Linked DNA regions of Homo sapiens: region 1 is linked to region 2. Evidence: fine-mapped QTL for protein levels in blood plasma. A gene starts in region 2. The other region holds a variant in brackets. All regions are shown on one strand. Distances are between the middles of the regions.

Region 1 (5,000 bases), 20 kb before region 2:
CCGGCCTCGCCGAGGAAGTCCACTCGCTGCTTCTCTGTGTAGCCGGCTTTCAGCGTCTTGATGGCCACCGGCACCTCCTTCTTCCCCGAGGATGTCTTCAGCATGCCCTTGTACACCTCCCCAAACTCTCCTGTGGGCAGACAGGGTCAGGGGAGTGCCCTGGTCAGCCCCGGCATGAGGGCTCCCACACTGTGTCACCACCGCTGCCTCCTCAGGGCCCCTTGGCAGGGGGCCAACCTCACCTGCTCCGATCACCTTCTGCCGAGTGACACAGGATGGATGGATCTCGGTAGTGAACTTCAACACAGCCTGGTTGGGGTCCTCATATGTGTGGGGGTCCACGTATGTCTTCAGGGGCTTCAGTTGTTCTGGAAGGAGAAGGGGTGGGGTCACAGGCAGCTCAGGAGGGGCCCCATGGGGGGTGCTCTGGAGTCAGAGGAGAAGGTCACGTGATCTTCAGAGACTTGGACCAGGCTGTGGGGGACGGACCCCTCAGAGCTGCCCACGGAAGCCTGTGGCCCCACCCCAGTGCCCTGGGAACACCCTGGCTGCCCCCACCTCCCCCACAGAGCTGGGGACGGTGCGGGCAGGGCTGGGCCTGGAGCGGGGGCTGCGTCTCACCTGACTTGGAGAAGTAAACGTCCTCCGGGGACTGGCGGGCACGCTGGTTCTTCCTCCTGAAAGAGCCCCACGGGGAACCAAATGCAGGGAGGTCAGTGAGGTCTGCTCCGGCCAGGGAAGCCTCCTGGCCCTACTTTGGTCCTAGGAGGACCTGGGGTGCTCAGAATGCGGCCCAGTCCCCGCTTTTGCTGCCCAAGCTCCACTCTCAGGGCCGAGGGTGCGGAGAAGGCGGGTGGAGGAACAGGGAGGAAGTGAGCGAGCCAGGACTCCCTCTCCAGGATCTAGGCCCCAGAATGGCCCCTTAAGCAGTCGTGACGAAGGCATTCCCATTAGAGCTACTCGGGGATTCCTGCCTGCGTGTCCAGAGGAAGTGTGGACACATCATTAATAACAACAAGAGCAGAGGTAATGACCCCCGTGTCCCGGCCCCGCCGCGTGCCAGGCACTTCGCTACACACTCTAACTCGTATATCCTCGCACCATCCGGAGGCAGGGATTAGACTCGACTAGCATCCTGTGGGCCCCATCGTTCAGATGAGGAAATGGAGGTTCCTGCCCCATTTTCCCACCCAAGCCCATGTGGAGCCAGGGTATGGGCTCTGACGAACCTGCGGTGGATAAAGAAGCCAACTCCTGCCAGCACCAGAAGCAGGACCACACCGACAGCCACGCCGCCAATCACCGCCAAGTTGCCAGATCCCTCCGGGGCTGGTGGAAGAAATCAGCTGATGACAAGGGAGTTCCCCCACAAATTACAGCAACACCCGCGCTGCACCCAAGACACCTGGGCCCCTACTGTGTGCTGGGTGCTTGCACTTGGGAAGGCTCCAGAGGGTACTTAGTCCCATTTCATAGACGGTCAAGCGGAGGCCTTCCCGAAGGTCTCACGGGAGGTATTGCAGGTATGTGGGGCTCAAAGCTCTGGCTTTTTCTGAGATGCGGATTTGAACTTCCTCACACCACTGTCGTGAATCCACATCCCGGCTCCTCCACCCCTCAGCCTTCCATGCTTCCCCCTCCCCAGGCTTGGGGGCAGTCCCCGAAGGGCTGTCCCAGGCCGCCGGTGACCGAGAAAGGGGCATTTCTAAGTTATTTGATTCACTTCCTTTCCCAAGATGTCTCAATTGCTTGGTTCTGGGCCCTGGCCTGGTCCATGCCCAGGGTCCCCCAACTCACACAGCGTCTGGAATTCGTGCACCTTGCTGCCGGCCCCCTGGCCCTCCTGCGTCAGTGCCTGCACCTGGACCAGGTAGGTGGTGTCTGGGGCCAGGTCGTCCAGGGTCACGGAGAAACCCTCGGTGCGGCGCACATTGTAGCTGTTGGAGTCTCCCTGTGGGTGGGTGGCCGGCGGAGGAGCAGGCAGTGAGGGCAGGGCAGGGGCCTCGGCTCAGCCCGCTGGAGACCACCCCAAGCTAGCAAGGTGGCTTGCCTTTGTTAGCAAACTTGAGGCTCTTCTTACAGAGGAGGAAACTGAGGCTCGGAATTAAGTGACTCACTCAAGGTCAGAACCACTAAATGCATGAGCCAGGACTCAAACTGAGTGTGTGGGGTCCCAAAATTCTGCCCCTGTCCTCACCCTGACTGCCTCTTCCAAGGACGCCATGTCTTCTCTCGTACAAATCTCTGCTGTGCTGCCTTGGGAGATGTAACCCCCTGGCAGACCCCAGGCCTCAGTTTCCCCATCTGCAGAAGGGTGCTTCTTCAGATGGCTGGGTGGTTTGGTGATCATCTATGTGACCAGCCTGTCCCCTGCTGTCGGCCCAGCTAGAGCCAGCCCCGCCCCTCTGGGAGTTACCTTCTTGCGGTAAGTGACCTCGTACTTCCACACTCGGCTCTGCTGCGGCGGGGGGATGCTCCAGGAGACGCTAAGCGAGGTGGTGCTGCGGCCCTCCAGCCTCACCTTGGGGGGCTCTGGGCAGGACAGGCAGTGGGGGAAGTGGGTAAGAAGCTGCCTACGAGCAGGCAGGGTTTGGGGGGACAAGTGGACGTGGAGCCACATCCTCCACAGCCCAGATTCTTTCATTTTTTTGAGACAGGATCTCGCTCTCTCACCCAGGCTCGAGTGCAGTGGCATGATCTCGGCCCACTACAGCTTTGAACTCCTGTGCTCAAGTGATCCTCCTGCCTCAGCTTCCTGAATAGCTGGGGCTACAGACACATGCTACTGTACCTGGCTAATTTTTGTATTTTTTGTAGAGATGGGGTCTCCCTATGTTGCCCATGCTGGTCTCAAATGCCTGAGCTCAAGCAATCCTCCTGCCTCAACCTCCCAAAATGCTGGGATTATGGGCGTGGTCACCACGCCCAGCTCCCAGGCTCTTTAGATCCCAACCTAGGATCCTAAACTTTCAGCTCCAGAGCACAGGGCCAGAGCCCCAGGCCTCCACCCTGGCCCCATCACAGGGGCTGGCACATCAGAGGTGCCCCATATTTACGAGTGCATAAATAATAATAATAATAATAATAATAATAATAAAAGGCCAGGTGTGGTGGTTCACCCCTGTAATCCCAGCACTTTGGGAGGCCGAGGCGGGAGGATTGCCTGAGGTTGGGAGTTCGAGACCAGCCTGACCAACATGGAGAAACCCCGTCTCTACTAAAAATACAAAATTAGCTGGGCATGGTGGCGCATGCCTGTAATCCCAGCTACTCAGGAGGCTGAGGCAGGAGAATCACTTGAATCCGGGATGCAGAGGTTGCGGTGAGCCAAGATTGTGCCATTGCACTCCAGCCTGGGCAACAAGAGCAAAACTCCGTCTCAAAAAAAAAGAAGAAGAAGAAGACAGAAGAAGAAAGAAGAAGAAAAGAAGAAAAGAAGAAGAAAGAAGAAGAGGAAGAAGAAGAAGAAGAAGAAAAGAAGAAGAAGAAGAAGAAGAAGAAGAAGAAGAAGAAGAAGAAGAAGAAGAAGAAGAAGAACTAACTTTTGCTGAATGCTTTCTTTTTTTTTTTTTCTTTTGAGACGGAGTTTCGCTCTTGTTGCCCAGGCTGGAGTGCAATGGTGCGATCTCGGCTCACCGCAACCTCCACCTCCTGGGTTCAAGCGATTCTCCTGCCTCAGCCTCCTGAGTAGCTGGGATTACAGGCATGCGCCACCACACCCAGCTAATTTTTTGTATTTTTAGTAGAGATGGGGTTTCTCCATGTTGGTCAGGCTGGTCTGGAACTCTCGACCTCAGGTGATCTGCCCACCTCAGCCTCCCAAAGTGCTGGGATTACAGGCATGAGCCACCGCGCCCAGTCTCAATTCTCAATTATTATCCCACTTTACAGGGGAGAACATTGAGGCCCAGAGAGGTTAAGTAACCTGCCCACAGTCACAGAGCTCAGAAGCGGCTCTGGAGCAGGAGTGTCCAATCTTTCAGCTTCTGTGGGCCATAATGGAAGAATGGTCTTGGGCCACAAATAAAATACAGCAACACTAACAACAGGTGATGAGCTAAAAAAAAAAAAAATTGCAGGCTGGGCGCAGTGGCTCACGCCTGTGATCTCAGCACTTTGGGAGGCCGAGGCGGGCGGATCGCAAGGTCAGGAGATCGAGACCAGCCTGGCCGACATAGTGAAACCCTGTCTCTCCTAAAAATACAAAAAATTAGCTGTGTGTGGTGGCACGTGCCTGTAATCCCAGCTACTCCAGAGGCTGAGGCAGGAGAATTGCTTGAACCCGGAAGGCAGAGGTTGCAGTGAGCCGAGATCAAGCCACTGCACTCCAGCCTGGGCAACAGAGCGAGACTCTGTCTCAAAAAAAAGGGAAAAATATTGCAAAAATAATATCATAATGTTTTAAGATAATTTACGAATTTGTGTTGGGCCGCATTCAATGTCGGCTGGGGCCACATGTGGCCCACGGGTTGGACAAGCTTGCTCTAGACACTGTGCCTTTAACCACTTGCTCTGCTGCCTCTCTCTAAACACACCCGAGCCCCAGATGGCCGTCCTCCTTAAGCCCCACCTGGGCAGGCCCCATAGGGCACAGCTGCCACCCCTGGACCTCACCTGTCTGGTTGATGCTGACACTGGCAGTACGGAAGCTGCGGCTGGTTACCAGGCCTGAGACGCCATTGCGGGCCTCCACGGTGAAGGTGTAGTTCATGTGGGGCTCCAGGTCGCTCACTGTCACACTGGTGCGGGTCAGTC[C/T]GTGAGGAGGCTCCGAGTAGCGCACACTGGCCTCACACGGCCCGCATTCCCCAGACTCGGGCCAGCACTGTTCGCAGGTGACGCTGTAGACAATGTCCTCGCGGCCCCCGCTGTCCTGAGGGGGCGTCCAGCGCAGCTCCACCTTGGCACCCATGCCCACGGCTGTGAGGTAGTGTGGGGCGGAGGGGGGTCCTGCACAGACAGGAGGAGTCAGTGCTGTGCTGGACCCAGGCGGACACGTCACC
Region 2 (5,420 bases):
GCACTCTCCAGCCCTCTTCCCATCAGCAGCACCCCAGCTCAGCACCCCCTGCCACCCGCCCAGGCCCCTGCCCAGCTATGCCTGCTTCCCAGGAAAATCTACCATGACACCAACCACAAAGCAGGCAGGGCCTTGGCTCTGGCAGCCAAGAAGCGGGATGCTCAGGTCTGGTCCTCTGTCCAGAAGGCCCTGGTTGGCAAGGGCTCGGGCCTCCCTCAGTTTCCCCATTTGTAAAAATGAGGGCAGATTCAGTGGCTGTTGATGACCTAACAGGAGCCACGTGGGCAACCAAGTATAGCCTAGGGGTGAGGGGGCAAGAAAGAAGTCTGAAGCAGCCTGGGGGTAGGTGAAAAAGGCACCTGTGTCCTCCTGCCTGCCCCCTAAGCCACCCCCAGGCAGACCCACCACATACAGCCTGATTCCCAGGAACTGAAACCAGCAGCTGCCAGCTAGGCCATCATGCCCACCCCCACCTAGGCACACTTCTCTAGGGACTCTTTCACGGGGACTCAGAGTCGAAGCAAAAATGTACCCCCACCCCAGTGCAATACACAAGCCTTTCCCCCTGCATCCCATGGGGTGTGGGGGTGGGGTTTAATCACACAGGCTGGGGAGAGGTGGACACAGGGGACAAGGACAAGGCAGCTCCAGGCTTCCAGGCCAGCTTGGGGACTGCAGCAGCAAAGCACCCGCCTAATCCCCCACCCCCCCATGGGCAGCCGAGGAGAAAGGCCTATAGTGATTCCAGCTGTCTCTCCCCTTCTCTCCAACCACAGTCCCCCAGGAAGGGGGAGGACCAAACGTTGGTGGGGCGGATATTGAGGGTGGCAGAAATCCTTGCCATGAGCTCCTGCAACCAGAAGTCCCGGTTGAGACCCCAACCCGGGCCCTGTCACTCCAGAGACTGAGACAGGATGCCACCCCCAACACCTGCCACTGCCCAACGGCTCCAGATCCGGCCTCTTTTCCTCCCAACACAGAACAGCAAAACCTCCAAACCCAGTTTGGGAGGCAGAAAAAGAAGGAAACAGGCCGGGGGTGGTGGCTCATGCCTGTAATCGCAGCACTTTGGGAGGCCGCGGCGGGTGGATCACCTGAGGTCAGGAGTTCAGAATCAGCCTGGCCAACATGGTGAAACCTCGTCTCCACTAAAAGATGCAAAAATTAGACGCGCCTGGTGGCGGGCACCTGTAATCCCAGCTACTAGGGAGGCTTGAGACAGGAGAATAGCTTGAACCCGGGAGGCAGAGGTTGCAGTGAGCCGAGATTGCGCCATTGCACTCCAGTCTGGGCAACAAGTGCGAAACTCCGTCTCAAAAAAAAAAAAAAAAAAAAAAAAGAAGGAAACTTCTCACCGGCCCAAGTTTCCTCCCGGCTTCCCCCTTGTGGAGCCTGCGGAAACCTCGCTCTGCCCAGGCAGGAGGGGAAGCCTTGCCCTCACTGTTGGAAATTGAAGCTGGCCTGGGCTGGGTGGACAGGAAGGTCTTCGGCCAGGGCAGGAGCCCCCATCCTCGCCCTGACCCTAGCGGAGGGACAACACCCCCACCACGCACCCGCTGCGCCATGAGCAAAGTCTGCGGCCCCTCACTCGGCGCGGCTCCGGGAACACTGGGGCGGGGGTGGGTGATTCAGTCCCCCACCCCCGGGTGTCCTGACTCCCTGGTGGCCCTGGGCTGACAGCTCCACACCTTGGGAGGCCGCACCCCCACCTGCCGCATTTCCTCGTTCTGAGTCACCCTTGCTCAGAACGCTTGACTTTGGGACTTCCTGTCCGCACTCGCGGCCCCTAACCTGCCCCGGGAGCCCGGGAGTGCGGCTTGGGAAGGAGGGAAAGGAGTGTGTGAGCAGGGATTGGCCCGAACCTATCTCCACGCTCTCCCCCGGGACTGGAGGTGAAGGGGGGCGTGGAGAAAATCTCAGGGAACAGGGGCTTCGACAGGGGGCTCCCGCCCGCCCGAGCCCCCTCCCCAAAATGCGAGGCCTGCACAGTATGCCTTCTCCGCAAAACCTCGGCAAGCGGGTTAGTGAATTCAGGTCACTAAGAAGCTGAGCCCGCGGAAAGCTGCCCAAACACCCCCTTCTCTAGGGGACTCCCCACGCCCCCCGCCGGGACGCGTTCCCGAAGTCGCCGCCTGGACTGCAACCGCGTGGCCTGCGCCGCGTCCTCTTCTCCGCAGCCTCCGAGGCCCGTGCGACCAAGCTGAAACCGCTTATTCTCCGGAGCCCCTATGACCCCGGGTGGGGGCCAGGGCTCGCCTCGATCGCAGCCCGTGCGCCCTCCGGACTCCAGTTCGCCGGGACTGGGCGACACCAGGTAGGTTCCAAAGTTGCGCGCGTCAAGGAGCGCCGGGCTCTAGGGGGCACTGGGGCCCGGGGGCCAGGGGTCCAGACGCCGCGCGCACTCACCTTCCTTGCCCTGCGCCGCCGCGGCCGCGGCCAGCGCACAGCCCCACAGCAGGGCGAAGCAGGCGCGGGCTGCCTGGAGCTCCATGCCGCGCTTCTCGCTCTCGGTCCGATCCCCCCGAGCCCGGCTCCCGCACACCCGCACGCCTGCACGCCGGCCTCGGTGTCCGCTCCCGCCCGCCGGCCTGCGCGCAACTTCTGCCCCTCCTGCCCCGAGTCCTTAATGGAAGTTGGGTGAGAACCGACTCCTGTTCATTCATGCCCTGCGTGACGTCACCAACGCCCGCCCTCAGGAATGTCTTTAAAGGGGCCGGGCTGGCACCCGGAGGAGAGGGAGGGGAAGTCCGGAGGGGTTTGGAGGAGGACCTTGGGGCCCTCTGGACTCGCGGGCTCCCCGCAGGCCTTCCAAAGTTTGAGCGTCTCAAAGCGCCAGCGCCCCTACGGATTAGCCCCCAGGGATCTCTGAGCCTGGTATCCTCGGTGGAAACGTTTAATGGTTTTGCGCTGAGCCATACCCATTCTGCCCTTCACCTCTGAGACTGAGCTCAATGCGACTGAGCTCAACGCTGGCCTGAAGGTCTGAGCTGAAATGGATTGGGGGTCCAATAAGCAGTTGCCTCCTAAGCAGCAGGCCTGAGAGAGTGGCCCAGAAATAGACCTGGATGCCCTCCTTCCTAAAACCCTTGAAGAGTATATCAAGCTGCTGATGGTCAAAAAGAGTATCTCTGTTCAGAAGCCTATAAGCCTACTATGATCTGAGAATAGGTTCATTTCCTCTGGGAATGGATCAGACATGCACTATCTTATTTATTAATAATTCTCATCTGGGAGGCAGGGGTCATCATCCCCATGTTACAGAAGAGGAGACTGAGGCTCCAAGAGCAGAAACAACATGCCCAAAGGGTGCACAGCTCACGGGTAGTAGAAGCAGGATTTGAATCCTGGTGGTCTCTGCTTGAACCACTGCTTCTTTTTGGGGAAGGGGGCAAGGGGCACCCCTGGCCCCCGACCCTGGCATGGGTTGATAGGTTTTGACAGTTTGGAGGACACCTGCCTACCACCTGCCCCTTGATAAGGCCTCTTCACAAAACTTCCTCAGACATGAGCTCATCTCCCTTCCTGACAGAAGCGGCTAGTGTGAGTGAAACAAACGGGAAATTTGCTCTGGCCCGCCTGCCCAGCCACCCACGGCTGCCTGTTGGCCAATCACCATTTGACCAGTCCAGGAAGAGCAACTGTGGCAGGCCTGATTTCCTGGGAGGCCCCAGACTCCCTTTGCCTACCTCTTCCTCTCTGACCCCATCCTCGCTTTGATGCCCGGGACCTGCTACCCAGGTACGTGGGTCTTCTCTGCCGGATGTGGACATCTTGGCCTCTCGCCTTGGTGCCTACTCTTGGGAAGCGGGTCCAGACATCTCTCCTGCAGGAAGAGAGGAAGGGTTAATTACAGGCGTTGGGGATAATTAAAGCCTTTGACCAAGAGGATGGGAGGAGAGCCTTGGTCCTCTGAGAGCCTGTGAGTGTGCAAGTGCCTGTGAGAATAAGTGCATGTGTATGAGGGTGTGAGATTTTGTTGAATGTGCATTCGTGTGTATAGACATGAGAGTGTTGATGTATGTATGACTGTGTGTGAGTGTGTGTATGGACATAAGTGTTGTATGTGACTGGGCAGGGTGGCTCAGGCCTGTAATTCCAGCACTTTGGGAGGCCGAGGCAGGCAGATCATTTGAGGTCAGGAGCTCCAGACATGCCTGGCCAACATGGTGAAACCCCGTCTCTACTAAAAATACAAAAAAATTAGCTGGGCGTGGTGCCACTCACCTGTAATCCCATCTACTAAGGAGGCTAAGGCAGGAGAATCACTTGAACCCCAGAGGCAGAGATTGCAGTGAGCCGAGATTGCGCCACTCACTGCACTCCAGCCTGGGCCAGCAAGACTCTGTCTCAAAAAAAAAAAGAAAAAAGTGTTGGTATATGTGTGTATAAGTGTGTGTGCATGGGCATGAGAGGATTTGGGTATGAGTGTGTGTCTGTGTGTGTTTTTGTGGATTGTGTGGATGTGTCTAGATGTGTGTATGAGTGTGCATGTGGGTGTGAGAGATTTGTGTATGAGTGCATGTGAGTGTGGATTTGTGTATGCATGTATTTGTGAGTGTGCCATACTTCACAGTAGATGTGGAGTCAGCCCATGAGTTTCTGAACAAGTTATTTCACTTTTCTGAGCCTCAGTTTGCTCCTGGAAAGATGTAAAGCCTATTTAGGAGAGTTACTGTAAAGATCAAATAAAGTCATGCATGTAAACCACAGGGGCCAGGACTACAGAAAGCACGCATGAAATCTCAGCTGTTACTGGGTTACATGCGGTTCAGCAACAGGAAGCCACATCCGTGGAGAGCAGGGCATGTGTTGTGCCCAGGGCTCTGTGGACAGGCACATGGGGTGTGTGGATGAGTGTGAGCATGTGTGTAGTACGTGGTTTGGATAAGTGTTTTGCATGTTGTATTGGAGCCTCTGGGCTAGGGACACTGGCGTGTGTAAGACTCCATGTGAGTTGTGTGGAAGCCACTGCTTGTACATGTGTGTTACATGCCACTTGCAGGCTCCATCTGTCAGATGTGTCACTAGAGGACACACTGCAGGAGGACAGGGATGTTTGTAGAAAACAGACAGTGCCTGGGCCAGGCGCGGTGGCTCACGCCTGTAATCCCAGCACTTTGGGAGGCCGAGGCAGATAGATCACTTGAGGTCAGGAGTTTGAGACCAAGCTTGTCATCATGGTGAAACCCCGTCTCTACTAAAAATACAAAAATTAGCCGGGCGTGGTGGCGCATGCCCGTAATCCCAGCTGCTCGAGTTGGAGGCAGGAAAGTCGCTTGAACCCAGGAGGTGGAGGTTGCAGTGAGCCGAGACCGCGGCACTGCACTCCAGCCTGGGTGACAGAGCGAGAGCCAAAAACAAAAAAAGAAAACAGACAGTGCCTGATACATACTAGATATTCAGCAAGCCTCCGCTGAATG

Which allele goes with the higher level. Alleles are on the strand shown, and positions count from the first base shown. The strength of an association depends on the size of the effect and on how common the allele is.
For the plasma level of the protein whose gene starts at base 2,628 in region 2, C is the low allele of the variant in region 1 and T is the other (weak association).

What was found. A credible set is the group of variants that fine-mapping cannot tell apart. PIP is the posterior inclusion probability: the model's chance that the variant is causal. Protein levels are from antibody-based Olink assays in UK Biobank. Linkage for the fine-mapping came from a reference panel and not from the study's own genotypes, which makes the PIPs less certain.
Region 1: its variant is the best candidate, but not a certain one, in a credible set for the plasma level of the EPHA2 protein (UK Biobank, PIP 0.88). The variant lies in the coding sequence of EPHA2. If it changes the protein, the assay may bind it differently, which can mimic a change of level.

Annotation. Positions count from the first base shown.
Region 1 is chr1:16,133,239-16,138,238 of GRCh38, forward strand. EPHA2 (EPH receptor A2) reads right to left here. Exons shown (of 17, transcript NM_004431.5): 5 at 4,615-4,947; 6 at 2,417-2,532; 7 at 1,798-1,951; 8 at 1,230-1,329; 9 at 622-677; 10 at 243-368; 11 at 1-130. Among named protein-coding and RNA genes, the nearest start is that of EPHA2-AS1, 19 kb to the right of the region's middle. The variant C/T (reference allele first, on the strand shown) is at 4,756.
Region 2 is chr1:16,153,442-16,158,861 of GRCh38, forward strand. It overlaps EPHA2 (EPH receptor A2), which reads right to left and starts at 2,628. Exons shown (of 17, transcript NM_004431.5): 1 at 2,407-2,628. The coding sequence starts at 2,491. It overlaps EPHA2-AS1 (EPHA2 antisense RNA 1), which reads left to right and starts at 1,774. Exons shown (of 3, transcript NR_187275.1): 1 at 1,774-2,314; 2 at 3,530-3,738.